5 linked regions of the Homo sapiens genome follow. The protein of the gene in region 1 purifies or fractionates together with the protein of each later gene. This does not show direct contact. Each region holds a gene or a part of one and is shown in the gene's direction. Other genes may lie near its edges.

Region 1 (3,519 bases):
CTCCTGCCTGCTTCGTGGAGCAGGAAGCCCAGGTCTGCAGCCACAGATCTGGCGGCTGCAGCTGCACGCGGAAAGGCAGATCCTACCTGTTCCCGGCTCCCCTAAGAGCACCGGGAGACGCAGATCCACAGCTGCAGTTTGGGCGGCTGTAGCCCCGCCCTTCTGGAGCAGGAGGCCTGGGTCTGTAGCTGTGACCCTGTGTCTGGGCTGCAGCGGCCACTCTACCTCAGAAGGGGCGGGGCTCCCACTGGCTTCATGGAGTGTGCAGCCACAGCCAGGGTTCCCTGCTGCAGCCGGCATGATGGCAGCAGCCACTGCCATCAGAACCTCCCTGGGAGCAGGGAGGACAGGCGTGGGAGGACGCTTATTCAGTGGCTTCTTCCAGGGAGAGGTTCTCGAGATGTCCTTAAAGGAGGTCTTCATCCTCTGGAAAGCCTTTGGGTGGAGGAAGTTTGGAACTGTGCCCTTGAGCAGGGACCCTGTTGTGTAGGAGGGAGTAGGATGGTTTCGGGGGAAGACGTTGGGTGGCGTTCCCTGCAGAGAGTAGGATGGTTTTGGGGGAAGACGTTGGGTGGCGTTCCCTGGAGAGAGTAGGATGGTTTTGGGGGAAGACGTTGGGTGGTGTTCCCTGGAGAGAGTAGGATGGTTTCGGGGAAAACATTGGGTGGCATTCCCTGGAGACAGTAGGATGGTTTCGGGGAAAACATTGGGTGGCGTTCCCTGGAGAGAGTAGGATGGTTTCGGGGGAAGACGTTGGGTGGCATTCCCTGGAGAGAGTAGAATGGTTTCGGGGGAAGACGTTGGGTGGCGTTCCCTGCAGAGAGTAGGATGGTTTTTGGGGGAGGACGTTGGGTGACGTTGCGCTGAGTGTTTTGGGTTTGCAGTTGGTACTGATCATCGCGTCCTGTCCTCATTTTGTTGGAATTAAAAATACGTTAATCACAGAGGTCTGGTAAGTTTCCAGAGGGAAGGTCTCTGAAGTGGAGCTGGGTACTGCCCCAGGGTTTTGGTGGGGTTGGTGAGCCGTAGTGGTGCAGAGGGTGGGCTCTGGCACCAGGTGGCCCGGGCAGGTCCTGGCTCTGCAGCTCACCCGGGCAGCTGTGGGCTGGCAGCCTCCTCTGTCTCACCCTTCTTACATGTAATATGGGAGTCATAACAGTAGCCACCTCATGAGGTTGTTATAAGGATGAAGGGAGTTAATCCACATCTGGCACACCCAGCAGTGCCTGGCGCCTGGGCAGTGCTCAGCCGCTGCAGCCGTTCTTGGTGGGAGTGGACTTGACTGCTCACAGTTGGAGCATGTTGGAGTGTGTTCGTTCCCTGTTATGGCTGTGACAAATGACCACAAGCTTAGTGGCTGACAACAACAGATTTTCTGACCTCCAGAAACGACAATCTGGGGGTCAGATGTCCAAAATCAGACTCACCGGCTTAAAATCAAGGTGTGGGTGGGGTTGCTTCTTCTGGAGGATCCAGGGGAAAACCCATCTCCTGGTCTTTTCCGGCTCCTAGAGGCCACTGCTTGACTTGTTGCCCTTTCCTCTGTCTATGAAGCCAGCCGTGTTACGTCTTCAAATCTCTCCCCTCGGTGACCTTCTCTGACTGACCCTCGCATGCCCCCTTATAAGACCCTTGGGTTATCACCTGGGTCATCCAGGGTCGCCTCCCCATCCCAGGATCCTTAACTTCATCTCAGCTGCAGCGTCCCTGTTGTCCTGTAAGGGAACATTCACGGGCCTTGGCGATTGGATGTAGGTGCCTTTGGGGCTGTGATTCAGCCAAACCCGCCCCTTGGTTACTTCTGGGTCAGAATCCAGGGGAGAGTTGGGTCCTGAGGTTTGGGGCCTGTCCTCCTCACTTGCTGTGGTTCACACCTGGACTCTGGGGCTCAGGCCTGCCTTCCCCCTTTCTCCCTCCTGGGCGCAGGGCTGCGCTGGCAGGACTGTCACTCAGCCTGATGGAACGCCTGGCTGAGGAGTACGGCGCGAGGGTGGTGCGGACACTGACGGTGCAGTACCGCATGCACCAGGCTATCATGCGCTGGGCCTCAGACACCATGTACCTTGGGCAGCTCACAGCCCACTCTTCCGTGGCAAGGCACCTCCTGAGGTGAGTAGCTCGGCACCACCCGCCGCCCCATCCTTCTGCCCTGGCTAATCCTCTGCGTCACCTGTTTCTACGCAGCAAGCTAAAGTGAAGCTTTCTGCATGAAAGTCGACTCTGAGGCTAGCTTTTTGGAAGAGAGGGTGGCCTTGCCCTGGAGAGCTGGGTCAGGCCCGCTCCCTCCCTTCTGATGTCCTGATGTGCTCATTGTCCTCCCCTACCTAAGCCTTTTCCTCGTGGGAGGGGTCGGTTCTGTTGGGTGGGGCCTCAGTGCTGCACTGTGGCCCCCTGATGTGCTCCCTCTCTGCCTGTGTGCCAGGGACCTCCCAGGTGTGGCTGCCACAGAAGAGACGGGTGTGCCCCTGCTCTTGGTGGACACCGCCGGCTGCGGGCTGTTTGAGCTGGAGGAGGAGGACGAACAGTCGAAAGGGAACCCTGGTGAGCTTGCTTGCAGATGGCCAGCTTTTTTGTTTAAACATACCTCCAGCTCTTTAAAAATAAAAGGCACTTTAATTGCCTAATTCCGGGAGGAGCTGAGAGCAGTTGTTGATGGCCGTGAAAAAACGGAGCCCCACACTGCAAGAGGCTGAGCAGCATCGTTTTCTCCAGGGTGAGCAGACCGCTCCTGGGTGAGATGGGCCTGGCAGCATTTTACGGCCTTCTCCTGAATGGTGGCCCAGCTCTGCCTGGCTGGTCTGGTGATGGGAACTGTCATTGCTCAGCTGACACCACCATCTCCCCAGTTCCACGTTGAACAGGATGCACGGCCATAGGAGTCAAAAGGCCTTCATTGCTGATGTGAAATTCAAGTTAGCTGGGCATGGCTGGTCCTGGGGCCCTGGGACACAGATGATTAGCTCCCAGGAAGCCACCTGAGTGGAGGATCAGCTGGCCATGATAGACAGAAACGTGCCCGAAACACGTGTTGGTGGTGGATGCCCACTTGGGGCGACCTTGTGCTGCTCACCCGTTCTTTCTTTCCCTCCAGGCGAAGTCCGCCTCGTCAGTTTGCACATCCAGGCTCTGGTGGACGCTGGTGTTCCAGCCCGTGACATTGCTGTGGTCTCGCCATACAACCTCCAGGTACGAGGGTTTCCTTTTGTCCCTCTACAGAGCAGCTGGGGCTCACACAACCTAGAGGGTGAAAGAAAAAGGGTGATTTGTTGGCTGTGGTGACCGAAAAGTTCAGGGGTAGGGCTGACCTTATTGTGACTGGATCCAGGGCCCAAATGATGTCGTCAGGGGCCCCTCTGCGTGTTCGTCTGCCCGCCCCACCTTGCCCCGCCCTGCCCGGTGCCCCAGCCTTCTGCACTGGCTTGTGTTCTGGCCAGATTTGCTGGGTGACCCCGGCAGCCTCAGGCTGACACAGTCCTTCCACGGGCAGCCCTGGCGGAACAGCCTGTCCTTTTCTGGCAT
Region 2 (3,519 bases), on another chromosome or scaffold:
ATTTTTATGAATACGCTGAACAAAGCAAATCAGTTTATTTGTCCCCCAAATATTTTGATTTGTTCAAACAAGAATTCAGTCAGAGTCCCCATGATGCGTGTGGTGGTGCTTGGTGGTGCCTTAGTTCCTTTGACATGGGACAGCCCCTCCCAGCTCTTCATTTCTCATGAGTTGAAAAGGCTGGGCCAGGCCCGATGGCTCACGCCTGTAATCCCAGCACTTTGGGAGGCTGAGGCAGGTGGATCACGAGGTCAGGAGATCGAGACCATCCTGGCTAACATGGTGAAACCCTGTCTGTACTAAAAGAATACAAAAAATTAGCCGGGTGTGGTGGCGAGCGCCCGTAGTCCCAGCTACCTGGGAGGCTGAGGCAGGAGAATGGTGTGAACCCGGCAGGCGGAGCTTGCAGTGAGCCGAGATCGCACCACTGCACTCCAGTCTGGGCGTCAGAGTGAGACTCCGTCTCAAAAAAAAAAAAAAAAAAAGAAAGTAAATAAAAAAAATTAAGAAAAAAAAAGGCTGGACCAGCTGCCCTGTAGGATGTCTCACCTTCTGGATTGATTTTGTTTTCTCTGATATCACTGAACTTAATTAACCCTCTGATCCCTGTGTTTCCTGTGAAGTGGAAACTGAATCTACAGGGCTCAGTGATGAGGGCTGAGTATTTTTGAGAAGAAGTCCTCACTGGTGGTGTGTGTGTCACATTGCGTCCCATCAGGAGGTCCTCGATGTCGGGTTGGCCCACAGTTAGCGATGCTGAGATTGATCGCGGCCTTAGGCTGGCGACCCTGGTAGTTACGTCCCCCCTTGTGACTATAACAGTGGTTCTTTGGCTCTCGGCGAAGATCCAGTTCCCCATCAGTCTTTCACCTAATGGTGTTGGCGTTCTTGTCCAAATCAATCACGTAATTAGAAGATGGAATAGGGCAATATTTGATAATCTATTATTCGGTCCACATTGCTTAGCAGACATTCTTCAATTAAAGAAAAAAGAGCCTTCTCTAACTAACGGGGCTGTCTGGATAGGGACAAATGAGTTTTTCTCTGGGGGTTTTCTTTGAGGACTTGTGGGTTTTCATCTTGCATCCTGCTTCACTCAAATGCTGCCATCAGTACTTGTGAGGCTCAGGTTGTCTCATCTTAGGCAGCAGGAGCCTCTTCAGGTGCTTGGGCAGCCCCTTGGTTAGCCTCCGTGCCTCCAGGCGCTATGCGACATTCCAGGCTCATCTAGCACACTCCCCACCCTGGACCTGGACGCCTCCGTCTCTCCAAGGAGCCCAGTTCCTGTTAGCAGGGATCTTCCTTCTCTCTTGATTGGTGTAGCTACTTTTCACTTTTGAGAGCACCTATGAATCTGTCAGTCATTTCTGAGTCTATTTTATGCCTCCAATTATTCTTATGAGCTAGTTCAATAGGAAAAATAGCTCTTTCTAAGGGGTGTGTGTGTTTGCACGACGGGGGCGGGGGAGAGAGAAAGAGACAGACATTTTGTAAAAGACTGGCATATGTATTAGTGTGAGATTAATGAGGGCATTAAAAGAGGCTAAAGACGTTGTCACCATGCTAGTGGTTTTCAGGTCCCCCAAATCCTTGACTCTTCCTCCCATGATCTTCGATTTTCCCAAAATATCCCTGCGTCCTCCCTGGAAAGCCCCAGAATGTTCCAGAAGTGAGAGCAGGCTGGGGGCCGGGCAGCACTGTAGGCAGGACTAGAGGGTGGTCGGGATGCGGTGGTGGTGAGGGGGCGACAGACCCAGAAGGCTGAGGGTTAGGACCACAGAGGACACTGTCACTTAGAAGGAAAATACATAGGATCAGGCCCCCCTCGGGCCTCTCCAGTGTCCCCTCAGCTTCCACACCTCCCTGGGAAGTCACAGCCACATGCTGAATGTGACGCCGTGGTCTGGGTGGATAACTCGCTGGTTGTGGGTGGTTTCTGGATGCAGATGCTGCTTTCCTTAGGCCTGAATTGAGCCCTCAGATGGAGGCAGAGAATAGACCCCACAATAAAGGAGAGAGGAGCAGGGACCTGAGAGCTCCCTCTACGTGTGCTACTTCCCGGTGCAGAAAAATGCTACCAGGTAGTACCGTAATGAAAATGATAATGGCAAGACAGCATCAACAACTGTGGCTAACTTACACTTTTCAGATGAGGAGAGGCTCAGTAACTCAGCCCAGGCCACACAGCACAGCAAGTAAATTGAGAAGGCAACATGGGAACCTGGGGCCGTGGGCAGCTCTGTGGGTGAATCCCCTCCCTAGCCACCAGGCTCACGGAGATCCAGCGGGTTGCGACCCCCGTCGGGCTGCCCCACGCTCACCCCTGTGCTCATCCTCCCTCAAGGCAAGGACCAGGTGTCGCTCAGCTGTAGCACAGAGACAGGACTAGAGTGGGGGCACAGTTGTAAAATTGAACTAGGGGGCAATGGTCCTGATGCTCTGACCCCGCAAGATGCTACTCAGGGCAGCTGCCCTGCTCTCCATGCCCAGAATTTCTTCCACGTCTCCAGGAGCCCCACACTTTGACGTGGACTCTACTGGCTTCTGTGCCCAGCCGTGCCCTCTGGAGGCTCTGCCCCTGGCTTGGGTTACCCGGAGCTGGAAAATGCCAGGGCAGGTCATGGGTAAAAATAGAAACCCACAGACCTGGCACATGCTTCCTGCTGGGCTCAGGCGGCTGCCCCAGGCACAGTGTCGCCTTGTGTGGGCCACTGCTTCCCCAGGGCAGGGTGTGGGTGGGAGGATGAGTCTATCACGCCTACGTGTGCACGTGCACACACACACACACACACTGTCTCTCTCCCCACCCCCCTTTTTCTTTAATAATTTCAACTTTTATTTTAGATTCAGGGAGTACATATGCAGATTTCTTACATGGGTATATATTGTGATGCCAAGGTTTGGGGTACGATTAATCCTGTCACCCAGGTAATGAGCATAGTACCCAATAGTTAGTTTTCCAATCTTTGCCCGCTTCTTCCCTCCCCGCTCCAGTAGTGCCCAGTGTCTACTCTTGCCATTTTTCTGTCCATGAGTACCCATGTTTAGCTCCCACTTATAAGAACATGTGGTATTTGGTTTTCTATTCCTGCATTAATTTGCTTAGGATAATGACCTCCAGCTGCATCCATGTTGCTGCAAAGGATATGGGTTCATTCTTTTTTGGGGGCTGCGTAGTATTCCATGGTGTATATGAATGACATTTTCTGTATCCAGTCTACCATTGCTGGGCACCTGGTTGATTCCGTGTCTTTGCTGTTGTGAATAGTGCTGTGATGAACGTGTGAGTGCAGGTGTCTTTTTGGTAGGATGATTTTCTTTTGGATATATACCCAGTAACAGGATTGCTGAGTGAAATGGTAGTTCTGAGTTCTTTGAGAAATCTCCAAACTGCTTTCCACAGTGGCTGAACCAATTTACATTCCCATCAGTGCACTCCCCATCTTAAGCTGTTAGTACGAATACCAATCAGGCAATTGTGGCTTCACATCAGCTTTACTTAACACTTGGCCTGGCATA
Region 3 (3,475 bases), on another chromosome or scaffold:
GATAGGTTGTGTTTATAAAATACAAACTGTGGCATACATTCTCTATACAAACTTGAAATTAAACTGAGTTTTACATTTCTCTTTAAAGGTATTGGTTTGAATTCAGATTTGCTTTTTTATTTTTATTTGTTTTTTTTTTTTTTGAGATGGAGTCTTGCTCTGTTGCCTAGGCTGGAGTGCAGTGGCGCAATCTCAACTCACTGCAACCTCCGCTTCCTAGGTTCAATCGATTCTCCTGTCTCAACCTCCCAAGTAGCTGGGATTACAGGCACACATCACGATGTCCTGCTAATTTTTGTATTTTTAGTAGAGACGGGGTTTTGCCATGTTGGCCAGGCTGGTCTTGAACTCCTGACCTCAGGTGATCTGCCCACCTCAGCCTCCCAAAGTGAGCCACTGTGCCTGGCCGAATTAAGATTTGTTTTTGAAATGCTGTAAAAGGTTATATTGGAAATCCAGTAATTGATTGTTGAGATTTTTATTTCTGTTAGAGACTTAGATTTTTTTAAGTTAGCTATTTTAAAAAAGCATTCAAAAAGATTAATGAAAATTGTAATAGAGAAAAAGTTAGAAATTCAGTTCCTTTTGGCAGAATAAATGTTCAAGAAAATTAGGCTGTGAGGGTACTCAGAACATTAAAAAAAATGTAGGCTGGGCATGGTGGCTCACACCTGTAATCCCAGCACATTGGGAGGCCGAGGCAGGTGGATCACCTGAGGTCAGGAGTTTGAGACCACCCTGGCCAACATGTCAAAACCCTGTCTCTGCTAAAACTACAAAAATTAGCTGGGCATGGTGGCGACCGCCTGTAATCCCAACTACTTGGGAGGCTAAGGCAGGAGAATTGCTTGAACCCGGGAGGCAGGGGTTGTAGTGAGCTGAGATTGTGCCACTGCACTCCAGCCTGGGTGACAGTGCAAGACTCTGTCTCAACAACAACGATAACAAAATATTGATTCGGCAGGGCACGGTGGCTCATGCTTGTAATCCCAGCATTTTGGGTGGCCAAGGCAGGCGGCTCACCTGAGGTCAGGGGTTCGAGACCAGCCTGACCAACATGGTGAAACTTTGTCTCTACTAAAAAAAAAAAAATCCAAAACAAATTAGCCGGGTGTGGTGGCACACTCCTGTGGTCCCAAGTACTTGGGAGGCTGAGGCAGGAGAATTGGTTGAACCCAGGAGGTGGAGGTTGCAGTGAGCTGAGATCATACCACTGTGCTCCAGCCTGGGCAGCAGAGCCAGACTCTATCTCAAAATAAAGACAAGTAGATTGCCAATTTTTGAAGAATTCATCAAGATATTTTAAGGAAGGCACTTTATATTAAATATATGTCAGATCCTTTAGAAATTGCATACAGTTGGTTGGGCACGGTGGCTCACGCCTGTAATCCCAGCACTTTGGGAGGCTGAGGCGGGCGGATTGCCTGAGCTCAGGAGTTCGAAACCAGCCTGGGCAACACAGTGAAACCTCGTCTCTAATAAAATACAAAAAATTAGCTGGGCGTGGCAGCATGTGCCTGTAGTCCCAGCTACTCCGGAGGCTGAGGCAGGCAAATTGCTTGAACCCGAGAGGCAGAGGTTGCAGTGAGCTGAGATTGTGCCACTGCATTTCAGCCTGGGCAACAGAGCAAGACTCTGTCTCAAAAAAAAATAAAAAATTGCATTGCATACAGTTTTCACTGTAACCCTAATCTTTCCTCATGTGTAGATTAGAATAAATTTTTTAGACAAAACCTTTCATCAGTATTAAACATTCTACAGATTTTATGATATCATTAGCATTTATCTTTATGCATGTGTTATATAAAAATATTTAAAGTAAATGTATTTTTTAAATGTTATTTCCATTATTAATGGATTGATACTCCTTAAGTAGAGCATTCACAACCTTTTAGTAATATTTGGGAAATATGTTTGGTCTCATTATTAGATGGTATTACATCTCAAATGATGTTCCTGTTGCAGAAGTCTGCGAAACAATATCTAAACTTGGCTGCAGTTGAGAGCTAAACAGTGTATTGAACCAGTTAGGAGTTTAGTTCTCTGTAGAAAACCAGAGGCAGTCCAGGGCTGATGTAGGTTTTGTTCCACATTCTTTAGGATCCTAGGCTCCCTCCATCCCTGGTATGTGGTCCTCATTTTCATATAGACCAAGAGCTAGAGCTCCAGTTACCATTTCTTAAAGTATATTTTAATGCCAAATAGTGAATAAAGGTGGCCAGAAAATTCATGCACAGAATCCTTCTTTTTCTCATTTTGTGCTGATTGGTATAAATTTTATTGTATTTGTAGTCTCTGGAAATCTTCTAACTTTGAGAGGACAAAGATGAATTCCTAGTCCTGTTTTGGATGGTCTTCAAATGATCCTTAAGGGCAGTTATTTAAAATGTCTTTCTTAACTCACCCAACCTAGGCTGACCGAATGTAGTCTGTATAAACTAGATGGTTAAAGATAAAGAAGCCTATATATCAGATGCATAGACAAAGAATAAAATGGCATCCAGAACTGGTCCCCACCTATTCCCAATCCTGGTTCCACAGCAGAATACATTCATAGTTCAGGCATTCTTCCTTGAGATAGATATAATGTAAGTGACCAAGTCTCTTGGACAAGTATTGTCTCTGATCAATCCCTGCCAAACTCCTTTCCTTGGTTAACTCAAGTGGTTAGATCTTACTCCCTGAACAGAAGGAATATGAGAGGTCAATACATGCCTAGACTATTCAGTCCTCTGATATTGCTCCACACCCTTTCCCTCAAAAGCCATGAGACCTTTCAATGGTCCCAGTTCCTCTACCAGAACACCAGAGATGCCTGCTTTACATGGACTTATATATTCCCAAGAATCACTTGGATAAATGAGTGGTGCTGCTTTCCCGTGGTTGGGGAAAAGCTAGGAACCTGACAATGCAGTGCTCAGAACCTGCTGACCGGTACTAGTTATGCTGTCTTGCCATAGTAGTGCAGTTCTTTAAAATGTTGATACTTGCTCTCTTATCAAAGGTTGGTTTTTTTGTTTTTTTGTCAAGACAGGGTCTCACTATGTCACCCATACTGGAGTACAATGGTGTAATCTTGGCTTACTGCAACCTCCACCTTCTGGGCTCAAGCTGGCCTCTCACCTCAGCCTTCCAAGTAGCTGGGACCACACCCAGTCAATTTTTTATTTTTTATTTTTTAATTTATTTTTATTATTACTTTTTTTGTAGAGAGAGGGTTTCGCCATGTAGCCCATGCTGGTCTTGAACTCCTGGGCTCAAGCTGTCTGCCCACCTGGACCTCCCAAAGTGCTGAGATTACAGGCATGAGCCACCGCACCCAGCCCAAATAAAGTTTTAAGAAATTACTTGGCCAGGCATAGTGGGGCCTTTGTAGAAAAACATAGCTTTTCTATGAGAAGATGATCAATATTTTCTTTTCCTTTGAATTTGGAATTACCATTTTGGAACTGTTGTCAACAATGCATAATAATAT
Region 4 (3,519 bases), on another chromosome or scaffold:
ATTTGTGTAAGGAATATGACACTTGTTTCCTGCTTTGTTGTTGGAAAACTGCATTCTTGTGACTTACATAATTGAGCTAAAAGTTTGATTTCTGTTTTCAATTGATTTTGCTCATACACTTTTAGACTGCAGAATCCGCAACGGTGAGAATGGAATACATTTTCTCCTAAACAGAGATGGGAAACGAAGGGGTGATGCCTTAATTGAAATGGAGTCAGAGCAGGATGTGCAGAAAGCCTTAGAGAAGCACCGCATGTACATGGGCCAGCGGTATGTGGAAGGTATGTGAAGTCAGATTATGGCTTTTTGGGATCATTGCATTAGGTTTTATACTTTTCAAGGTAGTTTTTATTTGATCCTTAATAATGAAGTATTTAGATTGTATGAATGCATTCTTTTATAGGATGTGAAAATAAAACATAAAGAGATAAAGTTTCTTTTTTTTGTGGGGGGGATGGAATCTCACTCTGTCACCCAGGCTGGAGTGCAGTGGTGCGATTTCAGCTCACTGCAACCTCTGCCTCCTGGGTTCAAGCAATTCTCCTGTCTCAGCCTCCCAAGTAGCTGGGACTACAGGCACATGCCATGATACCCAGCTAATTTTTGTATTTTTATTAGAGATGGGGTTTTACCATATTGGTCAGGCTGGTCTCAAACTCCTGACCTCAGGTAATCCACCCGCCTTGGCCTCCCAAAGTTCTGGGATTATAGGCGTGAGCCAGTGTGCCTGGCCAATGAAGTATCTTACAAGCTGTGAGAAATAAAGAAGTTATGCCCGCATGGTAAATATGCAATAAATGTCATTTGTTATTTTCTCTAGAGAAGCGCATAAAGATTAAAATAGTTATTGAATTCTCAGATAACCCAGCAAGTTGTAATGATTTTTTTTAATGGGTTTGTTCCTTTGTTATGTAAATTTTTCATCCCTGTTGGGTTTTTTCTTCGTAGTATATGAGATAAACAATGAAGATGTGGATGCCTTAATGAAGAGCTTGCAGGTCAAATCTTCGCCTGTGGTAAATGATGGTGTGGTTCGTTTGAGAGGACTTCCTTATAGTTGCAATGAGAAAGACATTGTAGACTTCTTTGCAGGTACTTTGCAGTTGTATTATGCTTGGGAGCTCATATCTTTTTTCCCTTGGTATCTCCTTCTATATCTTAGATGAGCCTGTTTCTGGGCAAAGGCATGCAGTTATATTAGGTTCTTTAGGGGAGAGCTCTTCACTTAAATTTCTAATATTTATAGATTTTATATGTGTTTTTGTTCTATCAGGCAGATTTTAGGAGGGAAGTCAGATTTCAGAATAATTTCATGAGGGTTTTACTATTGAAGGAAATAACTTCTCATAATAGTTGCTGTATTTGTGTAAGACAATAACAATTTATATAATTTAAAAGTATTTTCTAATTCCTAGAACCATTAGCAGTGAAGTCTGTGATTTCTATTGTTTCCTAGTATATAATTAACAGCAAAAAAAAAAAAAAAAACTGGTGGGGAGAATTGTATGTTTTGGGTGGGCTTCTTGGACCTTACCTATTCTGGAAATACAAGTATGTAGGTGTTGACTGACTTTTGACTGCATAATAATTTTCTTCCTGTCAAGCATGTATTCAGTTTTGGGACTGGCAAAACAGAATAAAAATTTTATTAGTATGTGAATGATGGTGTTAATTCTAAGGATAAAAAAGCCTGCTAGTAGCATTAAAATCTCTTGGTGTCCTAGGACTGAATATAGTTGACATTACTTTTGTGATGGACTATAGAGGGAGGCGAAAAACAGGGGAAGCCTATGTGCAATTTGAAGAACCAGAAATGGCCAACCAAGCCCTGTTGAAACACAGGGAAGAAATTGGTAATCGGTGAGTAAAGCAGATACTAATGATGCAGAAGTGTTACACATTAAGTCATTTTGATGAATGTGCTGTAATATGACTGAAAAGTTATCCAAACATAGAAAAGTAGAGAGAGTAGTGTAGTGAGCCATCAAATGCCCATAATTTAGATTAACAATTTTTTTTCGACTGCTCCTTTTTTTTTTTTTTGAGACAGAGTTTCACTCTTTTTGCCTAGGCTAGAGTGCAATGGCACGATCTTGGCTCACTGCAACCTCTGCCTCCCTGGTTTAAGCGATTCTCCTGCCTCAGCCTCCCAAGTAGCTGGGATTACAGGCGCCTGCCACCATGCCCGGCTTTTTTTGTATTTTTAGTAGAGACGGGGTTTCACCATGTTGGCCAGGGTGGTCTCGATCTCTCGACCTTGTGATCCGCCCGCCTCGGCCTCCCAAAGTGCTGGGATTACAGGCGTGAGCCACCGCATCCGGCTTGACTGCTCCTTGTGGGGCAGGGACTAACCCATAGACAGAGTACCTAGAGCAGCTAGATTAACACATTTATATATAAAATGTAACATCTGTTATATTTGCTTCATCTGGGTTTTTTTTAGTATGCATCTTTTAAAAAAATTTTTTTACATAATTTCAATGTTATATCTAACACTGTTAGCAATAGTATATTATCTAATAACAGTTCATAATAGCATTTTCCCAATTATACCAAAAATAGCCTTTTTTTTTTTGGCAACGGAGTTTCACTCTGCCGCCTAGGCTGGAGTGCGGTGGTGTGATCTTGGCTCACTGCATCCTCTCTCTGCCTCCCAGTTTCATGTGATCCTCCTGCCTCAGCCTCCTGAGTAGCTGGAACTAGAGGCATGCGCCACCATGCCCAGCTAAGTTTTGTATTTTTAGTAGAGACAAGGTTTTACCATGTTGGCCAGGCTGGTCTAGAACTCCCGGACTCAAGTCATTCACCCACCTCGGCCTCCAAAAGTGCTGGGATTACAGGTGTGAGCCAGCACACCGGACAAAAATACAGAATCCAGATAAGGTCTACACACTGCATTTGATTGTTATGTCCATAATTCTCTGTGTGTGTGTGTGTTTTTTTTTTTTTTTTAAGACACAGGGTCTTATTCTGTCACCCAGGCTGGAGTGCAGTGGCATGATGATAGCTCACTACAGCCTTGAATTCCTGGGCTCAAGCAATCGTCTCGCCTCATCCTCCCAACTAGCTAGAACAATAGGCATGTGCCGCCACACCTGGCTGTGTGTATGTGTGTGTGCGTGCGTGCGTGTGTGTTTGTAGGTGGGGTCTTGCTGTGTTGCCCTGGCTGGCCTCAAACTCATGGGCTCAAGTGATCGCCCGCTTTGGCTTCCCAAAACGCTAGGATTACAGGTGTGAGCCACTGCACCTGACCACTGATTCTCTTGAACTAGAGCAAATCCCCCTTACTTATTCTTCCCCCCTTTTTAAAAGCAATTGACTTTTGAAGAAATTAGATCAGTTGTCTTGTACAGTATCTCATGTTGACATCACCTCAGGATGCACATGATGATAAGTGGGTTCATTTGTGTTTTAACTTTAACTTTGGAGGTACAGTTTAAAATGTCAAATGTTAAATCACTGTTTCGTTAATTTTTTTTTTTACTGTTTTCTGGCCTTTTAAATCAGCTCCTTTGAAGT
Region 5 (3,519 bases), on another chromosome or scaffold:
ACTGTGCTAGCTACCTCAGCAGCTGTGGAGGTGACTACCCCAGCGTTACTGGAAAATGGTCATTTCATGTCTGAATACTTAAGTTGAAGGAAGAACACCATTTTTAGAGCTACCTAATGCTTCCACGGAGTTTCTCATGTGGGGCTTACAGACTGATGGGGTCCTATCAGAAGGCTTCAGAAGCTGGCTTAAAGGGTCTTAATGGCCAAGTCCAGACACTTTGAGCATCAAAAAGCAACAAAGCGATAGATTATGATACACAGTTTTTAAGAATTGTGATTTCCTAGTCAAAGAAGCAGAGAAAGGAAAAAAGCTCTTGTTTATAGAAGAATGCCTGCTAAGGTAGAAAGAATGATAGAAAAGGACTGTTTTACAGATTCTAGCATAATCATTGATTTAGGCAAGGACAATTAATAGATCCTGAACTCTTTGGATGAAAGTTGTTGAAGAATAGGATATTCAAAAAATTCCATGACATGAAAAACAGAAGGTTGGAGAGATGCTGTTATAGTGAAGTATTTAGGAATGGAGTGATACTTTGTCTGCAGCTAACTCTCATCAAAAGGTTCATTTTTAAAAAGCAGTGGGGTGTGTGTGTGTGTGTGTGTGTAGAGAGAGAAAGCAAATGTGGCAAGAAGTTAACAGTGAACCTAGAAGGTGAACTGTGTGTGTGCATTAGAACTTTTTGTGTGTGCGCACTTATAAATGTTGAAAATTAATGAGCTGTGATGCCATCTCCAAAGGAAAAATAAGTAAAAATAAATGTTGAAAATTAAAAGTTGGAGGGAATGCTTATTTCTATTTTAAACCCAAATCCAGGCTGGGCGTGGTGGCTCACGCCTGTAATCCCAGCACTTTGGGAGGCCGAGGCAGGCGGATCACGAGGTCAGGAGGTCGAGACCATCCTGGCTAACACGGTGAAACCCCATCTCCACTAAAAATACAAAAAAATAAAATAAATTTTAAAAAACCCAAATCCAACTTACTAATATTTTTTGCTGTTTGATGTAATTGTGCTATTTGGAGCTCTCTGATAGATCCAAATTCTCCCTTATATGGTGATACTGGTAATTTTTATATTACATCTTTTTTTTTTTTTTTGAGATGGAGTTTCACTCTTGTTGCCCAGGATGGAGTGCAACGGCGCGATCTCGGCTCACCGCAACCTCCTCCTCCTGGGTTCAAGCGATTCTCCTGCCTCAGCCTCCCGAGTAGCTGGGATTACAGGCATGTGCCACCACGCCTGGCTAATTTTGTATTTTTAATAGAGACGGGGTTTTTCCATGTCGGTCAGACTGGTCTCAATCTCCCGACCTCAGGTGATCTGCCCGCCTTGGCCTCCCAAAGTGCTGGGATTACAGGCGTGAGCTACCATGTCCAGCCATCTTTTTTTTTTTTTTTTTTTTTTTTTGAGTAGGAATCTCACTCTGTTGTTCAGGCTGGAGTGCAGTGGCAAGACCTTGGCTCATTGCAACCTCTACCTCAAGCAGTTCTCCTGCCTCAGCCTCCCGAGTAGCTGGATTACAGGTGTGCACCACAACACCAAACTAATTTTTGTATTTTTAGTAGAGACGGGGTTTTACCATGTTGACCAGACTGGTCTCGAACTCCTGACCTCAGTGATCGCTGCCTCGGCCTCCAGAAGTGTTGGGATTACAGGCATGAGCCACCATGCCTGACCTATTACATCTATTGTGTAGGTACTATGATATGCCATACATTGTGCAGAACACATGGCATGCATTAGTTAATCCTCCTAACAGTTCTTGAGTTAGTACTCATTTCCCCTTTTAAAGATGAAAAGACAGATGCTTAAGAAGATATCACTAAAGCAACAGAAAAAACATTTCATCTTAAGAATGAAAATGAATTTGTTAGACAGGCTAGAAAGAATATTCACTGATGAGAAAGCACAATAGAAGAATTTATTTTATTTTTTTCATTAGTTATTTAGTTTATTATAAAAGAGAAATATGGAAATTATTTACATGATGAAAGATTTCAGAACTTCGGTGGAATGGGCAGCTTCATGTTGATGCCATTTCAATAGTGACTTATTTCAGTTTACGTACTTTCCAAGAACGTCACCATCTCTAAATAGGAAATAATCCTTGTCATCTAGAACTACTTTGGTGCCTCCATGTTATGGGAGAAGAACTTTATCTCCAACTTTCACACGAACTGGTTGAATCTCTCCACCCTTTCCTTTAGAACCCGATCCAACAGCGACTACTGTTGCTTGCAATACTTTTCCTTGAGATTTTTCTGGAAGCATAATGCCTCCTTTGGTTACAGTTTCAACAGCACTCCTTTCAACCAATACTCGGTCAAAGAGTGGAAGAAACTTAAACGCTTGTCCTGCCATGACTCCCTCCACCTCAGACTCGTACTCTGCTCTAGTGTCAAGAATTTATTATAGTGTTACTAGGCATGCATGTTTTTCTGGCCTTGAACTTGTCCTACATACAGCCCACCCTGGAGAGGCAATCTAGTATGGTGGTTTAGAGCACAGTCCGTGAAGCCTGAAGCCAGAATGCCTAGGTTCAAATCCCAGTTCTACTATCACAAGCTGCTACTGCCTTAGAAGGACTTCTCCAGGATTCTATACTGGGAACCTCTGTTGTATTCGTTTCCTATTGCTGCTATAACAAATTACTGCAAACTTAGTTGTTTGAAATAACATTAAGTTTATTATCTTAACGGTTCTGGAGGTCTGAAGTCCAAAATGGATGTCACTGGGCTAAAATTAAGATGTCAACAGGGCTGCATTTCCATTTGGAGGCTTAGAGGACAATCTTTTCTTGCTTTTTAGTTTCTAGAGGCCACTCTCAGCCTCTGTCTTCAAAACCAGCAACATTGTATCTCTCTGTGTCTTTGCCTTTCTTCTATGGGAACCTCTTCCTCTGACTCTTCTGCCTCCCTCTTCCACTTTTGAAGACAGTTGTTACCATATTGGGCCACGGTGATAACAGATAATCTAGGATAATCTCCCTATTTTAAGGTTAGCCTTATATTAGGCTGATAAGCAACCTTAATTCCATGTACAACTTCAGTTTTCCTTTGTAACCTAACATATTCACAGATTCCAGGGATTAAGGCATGAATATTTTTGGGAAACCTTTTTTTTTTTTTTTTTTTTTTTTTTTTTTTTTTTTTGCCTACATATCTATGTTTAAATTCTAAAGTTGTGTAAGGCAGCTGGGGCCAGGAGAAGATTATTCCAAAGTGGAGATCCTTGCCAATCCTGAAGATGACTTGAGTAGAACCAGTAATTGGGTTTGAGCTAAAAGGAACTACTGGGTGGCGTATGTACATGTTTTTTATTCTCTTACTAGCATAAAATATATATAGTAAATTCAGCATTTTTTTTTTCTTTTTTGAGGCAGGATCTCACTTTATTCCCCAGGCTGTATGACAGTGACATGATCATGGATCACTGTAGTCTCAACTTCTGGTCTCAAGCAGTCCTCCTACCTCAGCCTCCTGAGTAGCTAGGACTACAGGCATAGGCCACCATGC

The links.
Region 2: the proteins of IGHMBP2 (region 1) and TUBA8 purify together in Homo sapiens (affinity purification with mass spectrometry; 2 studies listed by BioGRID and IntAct, with this or other methods). This does not show direct contact.
Region 3: the proteins of IGHMBP2 (region 1) and WDR12 purify together in Homo sapiens (affinity purification with mass spectrometry; one large-scale study listed by BioGRID and IntAct). This does not show direct contact.
Region 4: the proteins of IGHMBP2 (region 1) and GRSF1 purify together in Homo sapiens (affinity purification with mass spectrometry; 2 studies listed by BioGRID and IntAct, with this or other methods). This does not show direct contact.
Region 5: the proteins of IGHMBP2 (region 1) and WDR89 purify together in Homo sapiens (affinity purification with mass spectrometry; 2 studies listed by BioGRID and IntAct, with this or other methods). This does not show direct contact.

Annotation. Positions count from the first base shown.
Region 1 is NC_000011.10:68,931,373-68,934,891, forward strand, and holds part of IGHMBP2 (DNA-binding protein SMUBP-2), read left to right. Parts: exon of another isoform or gene 1-1,749; coding exon of another isoform or gene 1,750-1,751; intron 1,752-1,926; coding exon 1,927-2,109; intron 2,110-2,422; coding exon 2,423-2,541; intron 2,542-3,091; coding exon 3,092-3,186; intron 3,187-3,519. UniProt on the Homo sapiens protein: 5' to 3' helicase that unwinds RNA and DNA duplexes in an ATP-dependent reaction. Specific to 5'-phosphorylated single-stranded guanine-rich sequences. May play a role in RNA metabolism, ribosome biogenesis or initiation of translation.
Region 2 is NC_000022.11:18,117,309-18,120,827, forward strand, and holds part of TUBA8 (tubulin alpha-8 chain), read left to right. Parts: intron 1-3,519.
Region 3 is NC_000002.12:202,877,216-202,880,690, reverse strand, and holds part of WDR12 (ribosome biogenesis protein WDR12), read left to right. Parts: 3' UTR 1-3,475.
Region 4 is NC_000004.12:70,829,880-70,833,398, reverse strand, and holds part of GRSF1 (G-rich sequence factor 1), read left to right. Parts: intron 1-125; coding exon 126-281; intron 282-948; coding exon 949-1,092; intron 1,093-1,724; coding exon 1,725-1,860; intron 1,861-3,519. UniProt on the Homo sapiens protein: Regulator of post-transcriptional mitochondrial gene expression, required for assembly of the mitochondrial ribosome and for recruitment of mRNA and lncRNA. Binds RNAs containing the 14 base G-rich element.
Region 5 is NC_000014.9:63,600,355-63,603,873, reverse strand, and holds part of WDR89 (WD repeat-containing protein 89), read left to right. Parts: intron 1-1,566; exon of another isoform or gene 1,567-1,696; intron 1,697-1,939; exon of another isoform or gene 1,940-2,403; intron 2,404-3,519.